2 linked regions of the Homo sapiens genome follow. The protein of the gene in region 1 interacts with the protein of each later gene in a biochemical or structural test. Each region holds a gene or a part of one and is shown on either strand. Other genes may lie near its edges.

Region 1 (3,649 bases):
CTGTCAAGAGATTTCATTCTCTTTGCATTGTTTTCATAGACAAGCCGCAGACTGGTAGAAAATATATGCAAATGATATACCTCATAAGAAGCTAGTAATCCAGAAAATGTAAAGAACTCACAAAAATCAGTAAGAAAATTTTTTTAACATGCAAAAGGTTTGAATAAATGCCTATTACAGAAGATATACGGATGGCAAGTAAGCACATGAGAAGATACTCAATATCATTAGTAATTCGGGAAATGCAAACTAAAACCCAATAATATACCATTCACTTATTAGAATCACAAAAATTTAAAAGACTAACCATACCAAGTATTGGTATGGATGTGAAATTAACTAGATAGAACACTGACTCACTGCTGGTGGGAACATAAATGATACAACTACTTTGGAAAACAGTTTGTCGGTTTCTTTAACAGTTACACATATATCTACCCATATGATCCAGCCATTCTCAGGTTATTTCCCCAAGAGAAAGGAAAGCATATGACCATACAAAGATAAAAAGGCTTCCACATGAAACTTCGTAGCAGCTTTATAAGGAACAGCCAAAAATTTGAAACAATCCAAATGTCCATCAGCAGTTGAATGGATAAACAAATTATGGTGTATCCAGACACTGGAACACTATTCGGCAGTAGAATAAACTACTAACACACCATGAATGAATCTCAAAATAAACACGCTGTGTGAAAGAAGCCAGACAAAAAAGAAGTATATAATGTATGATTCTATTTACAAAAAGTTCTAGAAAATACCAACAAATCTATAGTGAGAGAAAGCAGATCAATAGTTGCCCTGGGACAGGAATTGGCAACTAGAAAAGGGAGGGTTTACAAAGGAAACACATGGAAACTTTCTAGCGTGATTGGTATTTTTATGATTTTGATTGTGGTGACAGTTTCAGATGCAAATACATATGACAAAACTTATCAAATTGTATAATTTAAATAAATTGTACATTTTAAATTGTGCTGTTTGACAATTATACCTCAATCTCTTAAAAATTTTGTTTAAATAACTATCAAAATTATAATTAAACACCTCATTTTTGACAATACTAAGAAGGAAAAATAGTGCTATTAGGGCAGTATATAAGGGGTAACCTAGTGTGAAGAGTCAGACAAGCCTCCTTTAGAAACTAGTATTTAAGTGGCCAGGCGCAGTGGCTCACGCCTGTAATCCCAGCACTTTAGGAGGCCGAGGCGGGTGGATCACGAGGTCAGGAGATCGAGACCATCCTGGCTAACACGGTGATACCCCGTCTCTACTAAACAAAAAATTAGCCGGGCGTAGTGGCGGGCGCCTGTAGTCCCAGCTACTCGGGAGGCTGAAGCAGGAGAATGGCGTGAACCCAGGAAGCGGAGCTTGCAGTGAGCCGAGATTGCGCCACTGCACTCCAGCCTGGGTGACAGAGCCAGACTCGGTCTCAAAAAAAAAAAAAAAAAAAAAAAAAAGAAACTAGTATTTAAGCTAAGATTAGAAGGATGATCAGTAATCACCCAAGCAAAGACCAGAGAGGAAAGAGTTCACAGTTACGTGTATAAAATGCACTAAGGCCAAAAGGAATGTGACACTTTCAAGGAACTTCAAAAGGCCAGTCAGGGCAGAGGAAAGGAGGCCTGAGTCTAATCAGCTAAAGGGGCCAAATCATGCAGACACGTGTTCTTGAAAACCATGCTACTATGCTTCTACAAGTAACTTACCTTATCAATTTAGAATCTAAGAAACACTCAATTTAAATTATTTTAAATTCCTACTGTGTGATTATACACTTTAATAATGTAAAAATAATCCATGGATATAAATTATCCATTAAAATAAAACTTTGAAATAAAGAAGTCTTAGGGACAGGGAACATTCAGTTTAAGTTTATAATTACTGTCAGTTTCCTTACAAGTAAAAAGGATTCCAAATATATATGTATTTACATATGCATATATATATATTTGTTTTTTGTTGTTGTTGTTTATTTTTGTTTTGTTTTGAGACGGAGTCTCGCTCTGTTGCCCAGGCTGGAGTGCAGTTGCGCGACCTATGCTCACTGCAACCTCCGCCTCCTGGGTTCAAGCGATTCTCCTGCCTCAGCCTCCTGAGTAACTGGGACTACAGGTGCGTGCCATCACACCCAGCTAATTTTTGTATTTTTAGTAGAGACGGGGTTTCACTGTGTTAGCTAGGATGGTCTCGATCTCCTGACCTCATGATCCGCCCGCCTCGGTCTCCCAAAGAGTTGGGATTACAGGCGTGAGACACCAAGCCAGGCAATATGCATATATTTTTAACAGCTTAGGGGAAGAGTTTACACACTTTATTCTGCCCGTTTTTGTCTATAATAACAACCTAATTCCTGACATTATATCATTACATCTTCATTTTGCTGTCACTACAAATAGAATGCTTCATATATGTATATATAAATTTTTAAGAAGAGTCTCGCTCTGATACCCAAGCTGGAGCGCAGTGGCGTGATTACAGCTCACTGCAGCCTCAACCTCCTGAGCTCAAGGAATTCTTCCGCCTCACTCTCTCTTGTAGCTGTGACCACAGGTGTGTGCCACCATGCCCAGCTACTTTTAAAATATTTTTTGTAGAGATGAGGTCTCACTATCTTGCCCAGACTGGTCTCAAACTTCTGGGCTCAAGGGATCCTTCCACCTCGGCCTCCCAAAGTGCTGGGATTACAGGCCTGAGCCACGGCACCCAGCATACTTCCATTTTAAATGCGTGAAATGAAGTATCCAAATTTGACTAACCTAAGAGGGGTAAAAATATACCCCTTTATATTTGACTAATATAAAGAGCAATACTCTTTATATTTATATAAATTTATATAAATCTCTACTCTACAAAATTAATTCTCAAGGGCTCCCTTCTAAAAGAGAACGTCATTCAAATAGATTATAGCAGAATATTTTCTTGCTTAACATTACACTGAACTATTCAAATAAATACAACTTGAATTAGAGTCTGTATCTTTGATTATTATATTTCAAATATATTTTCCTATTCTCAATCCCAAGTCCTTTAGTCTAGCTTTGGGTGAAAAATCAATGTTCCTTTTGTTTTACCTGTGTAAGGAAGGAATGGCTTGTTATTCTGAGTGCTTTATTCTTTTCAAATGGAAACAGAAGACTGGAATCAATGCTAAGAGAACTGAAGTACCACTTTTGATACTATATTTGCTTCTGCATTTCTTCCCCCAACTATCAATCTTCTATCCTCAAGAAACATTTGAAGAACATTTTTATTCCCTGGCGAAATCCCTATAGTAGAAAAAAAGCTAAGTTACCATGGAGCCAACCAATTAATTTTGACACCTGCTTACCAAGATTGATCAATCATTTTTAATGTCTGTTTGTAAGGTTGCTATCCTTCAGTTTAGAAAAAGATTTTCAAGATAGTTAGTGAAGTGAGATTTTCTAGTTAAAGCCTTTCCCACTGTGTTATTACTTCAAATGCCAGGTAAAACAAGCTACTATCTTCAAATAAACCTTTCATAGGTTTATTTGCATGTACTTTACCAAGAAGAATTCTTTTCTACTATACATAATCCTTCTCTTTAACATTAAATACCAATGTGTTCTTTATCCCCAAGAGTATACATAATAAAAACACAGATCGTTACACCAGTTATATTTACTCT
Region 2 (3,749 bases), on another chromosome or scaffold:
ATAGTTAAAAAGTAACTTCAATTTGGTAAGACAATCCCTCAATGAGATCTATTTCAATAATCTGTCTGGAGTAATGTTGTTACTATTAATCTTAGCTCACTTTCAAAAGTTAGTGAAATATGATTTAATAGACAATTGGTTACTTGTTTAAACATCAGTTAACTGAATTACATGATTTAAACAGCAAACACTATTTTAACAATGGCAAACACATATGCACGTGCACACACACACATAACATTGCAGTTGATTTTCACACAGCTTTATAAACCACTTTAATTTTTTCCCTCCTCCACCTCAATTCCATCAGTAAAGAGTTCATCTTTAGGGGTTATATTTAATATATTAATAGACCTTTCATTGTACTCTCCTCCAGTTCTTGAGTATCCAAAGCAATATGCACATGTATCTGTCCAGAGCTGAATTTTTTTTCTGTATAATAATTCTTCATGGAGGCAAAGAAGGTGCAAGTATTTTCTTAAACCCCTAAGCTATACACTTGTAAGAAACAATTACTTTTATGCTTTGGATAACCGATAAGAAGTTAAAAGAAATTAAAACTTACGTTTTTCCATCACTAGATTGACCAACCCACTATTTTAGTCACATGGCACGAGACCAAATATTAAGAGAACCATTGGCCGCTAAAACAAGAATTTGTGACTTGCCCTGTTTGAGGAGCATTTGGGACATACAAAATGTTCCATGTGAAGATTCAAAAAATTAAAAGGTTATTCAATGCCTTCCTTTAAAAGTTTCACTGAGGAAGTCCCAGAGGCCCAATGTTACCCAAATACTTGGCATAAGTTCTAGTGCCAGATATTTTCTCAACATGTATTGCACACTTAAAAAAAATTGTCACTTAATTTATACTTGTTCCTGACTTCAGCTACAGAGCTAGGAACGTCTTTCTCATTTTAATAGTCACTCAGGACCTGACAACAGCCCACACACATAGTAAATGGTCATAGAATCTGTGACATTAAACTGAAAACACTCAAAATGTAGACAGGTTGGCTAAGCAAACAGCATGCTCCCACCTGTGTTCCTGCCCAAGTCACTGAGACAGGGCAGCTCACAAGGCTGAAACTCCAAAGGCCCCATCAGTTGTAACTTCCGAGTATGTGTCACTTGCACAATCAACTTTCTAACTCCAAGGAGCCTAAGTGAGGCGGGCCTTAATGGGTCAAAAATCACACTTAGGTGAGCAGCACCTTTTAAGACGTTCCCTCAAACAAGTTCTAAACCAGTGGTTCTCAAACTTCAGTGGGCATTCCAATCACCTGGGGATCTCGTTAAAGAGCAGATCCTGAGTCGGTGGGTTTGGAGAACTGCCCATATTGGGCAGTTCTAAGAAGCTCCCAAGAGATTCCAATGCTGCAGGTCCACTCACGACCCTCGGAGCTCAAGGCCCACAAACACCCAAAGACACCCACATCACTGATATTAGCAATAGACAACAGCTGCAGCTACAGGCAGTGCCCCATAATCCCCTGGGTTTTCTGCATCCCCTGAGTGTCGCCACCGGGTCGCACCTGGCAGGTGCCTTGGCTGCAGCCGCGCCCCACTCCTCCGCGCCGCGCTCACCTTCTCCCGGGTCTTCAGGTACCGCTGCAGCGCCTGCTGGGTGAGCTCGCCGACGCGCAGCTGGCCCTCCTTGCAGGGCACCACGATGCCCGTCCTGCCGAAGCACACGGTCACTTTCATCCTGGCCCCCGGCGACCACGCCGGGCCGGGCCGAACAGGTGTCTGACCCCGCGGGCGCAGCCCCCACTCTCGGAGGACGCCCGGGGCGGGTGGGCCCAGAGACCCGGGGCGCCGCTCCCCGGAACACCCTGAGGCCCGGAGGCTCGCGGCAGCGCCCCTTCCACCTGGCCAGGCGGCAGGTGGCGGGAATCGGGGAGGGGCGGCCGCGGAAAGGGGTTACCTCCCAGGTGCCCGGCGGCCCGGGACGCGGCAGCTCCGCGGCACCGGCTCCTCCTCCTCCTCCTCCCGCTCCTACTCCTGCCCGGCCCAGGCGGCTGCTCCGCGCCCACCAAAGCGAAACTGCCGGCCCTGCCCTGTCGCTGGTCCTGGCCCTGGCCCTGGCCCTGGCGGCGTTGGCAGGGCCGGCCCCAAGCCGGGGGCTGGAGTGGGCGGCGGCGGCGGCGGCGCACGGGGCCAGAGTTGGGAGGAAACTTTTGCGCCGGCTCCCAACTCCTCTGCGGCGCCCGCGCTCTGGGCTCCTGCGGTCCCGGCGACGGCCTGGGCCCGGCTCTTAAAGGGGCCGCGGCGCTCCCGGGCCCCGCCGCACGCTGGGCGACGACGTGCCCCGGCCCTGCGGGCCAGTAACTGGAGCCCGGGAGCCTCGTCTCGTCACCTGGGTCTCTCCCTGGCTCTCTCCCTCTCGCACGCATGCACACGGAGCTCTGGGGAGTTGTAAGGGGACCTGAGGGCTACACGCTCGAGGATTGAAACCGGATCTCAGAAAGAACACCCGAGGGAAGAGCGAGGAGACTGCAGAGCTGCGCCCTTCACAGGAGGGGACTGCAGCAAGATGCAAAAGGAGCCCAGGAGCAGGTGCTTCTAGTCACGCCCACCAAAAACACCCAAGGGGCGAGGCTGCCGGGTGCGGAGATGCAGGAGTGCCCCGAGGGCCTGTTAGGAACTCGCCTTAAGCACAGCCCGTGCCGCTGCCATCAGGAGCCCTGGGATAGCAGAGCTGAAGCGAACCTTGGAGAGAACGCGCCAGTGGAAACTTTTCCTTTTACAGACCCTCGAGGACACTGAGTATTTGGCCAAAGGTCACACCCAAGACCCAGATATGATCGCGTGTGTTGACACATAGCCTTCTGGAATGCGACTACCGTTGTGCATTTTATTAGGAAAAAAAAAAGTTAACACCCTTAGGCTCATGATTTGGCAGGTGTGTATCCATCACCAATTGAAATGGGAATATGTGGGGGAAACCAACAAATTACGTTAGTTTCATTCTTAGCTCTCATGTAAATGAGCTCCTTTGAGCTTAACAACTACCCGGTAGGTAGATATTATTCTTCGCATCTTGTGCATCAAGAATGGTGCTCGGAGAGGTCAAGAGACTGAGCAGACCATGGTGTTAGTTCTGTTGAAAAGAACTCAGGTCTTCTGAGCTCAATCTCTGGTCTCTCCCTGCAGTTTTCTTAGCCATCCAGTTCATCCAGCAAGACCCTCAGGGCTGCATCATGTGTTTCTCTACAGAAGGATGTGCTCCTATGTGGACACACTTAAATTGAACGTGAATTGCCTAGGATGGTATGATAATGCAGAGGAGATTAAATTCATGGGTTTCAAGAGGTTTTTTAAAAAAATAAATTTTAGCTCATTCATACATTCAGTAAGTATATATTGGTTGTCTTCTATGTATAGAAAGTCAGTGGCAAACCAAGAGGATCACGTAAACCAAGTCCATTGTAATTTGGTTGTAAATCCAATACAAACTAATTTACATTTAAATAAACCAAAGACAGAATTGATCACCTCATAAAATCAGAAGATCCAGAGGGCACTCCATTGAGGCAAGGTTGAAAGCAGGAACTCAAACTATGTCCTCAGGGGCCAGCTAGCTCTGTCCAGCTCTTAGCTCTATCTGTTCCTCAGTGTGGTCTCCATTCTCAGGCCAGCTCTCTTCAAAGGAGACACTTTATCCTCTTTTTAGAGATGAGGAGCTGAGGCCAAAGGAAGTTAAATGATTTAGTTAAAATCTCATTCTTAGAAAGTAGCAGAGGCTG

Evidence for each region.
Region 2: the proteins of ATRNL1 (region 1) and PARD3B interact in a test that uses a peptide from one of them, tested with the Homo sapiens proteins (one large-scale study listed by IntAct).

The regions. Positions count from the first base shown.
Region 1 is NC_000010.11:115,096,265-115,099,913, reverse strand, and holds part of ATRNL1 (attractin-like protein 1 isoform 1 precursor), read right to left. Parts: intron 3,270-3,649; exon of another isoform or gene 3,075-3,269; intron 1-3,074. UniProt on the Homo sapiens protein: May play a role in melanocortin signaling pathways that regulate energy homeostasis.
Region 2 is NC_000002.12:204,543,958-204,547,706, reverse strand, and holds the start of PARD3B (partitioning defective 3 homolog B), read right to left. Parts: upstream 2,233-3,749; 5' UTR 1,708-2,232; coding exon 1,588-1,707; intron 1-1,587. UniProt on the Homo sapiens protein: Putative adapter protein involved in asymmetrical cell division and cell polarization processes. May play a role in the formation of epithelial tight junctions.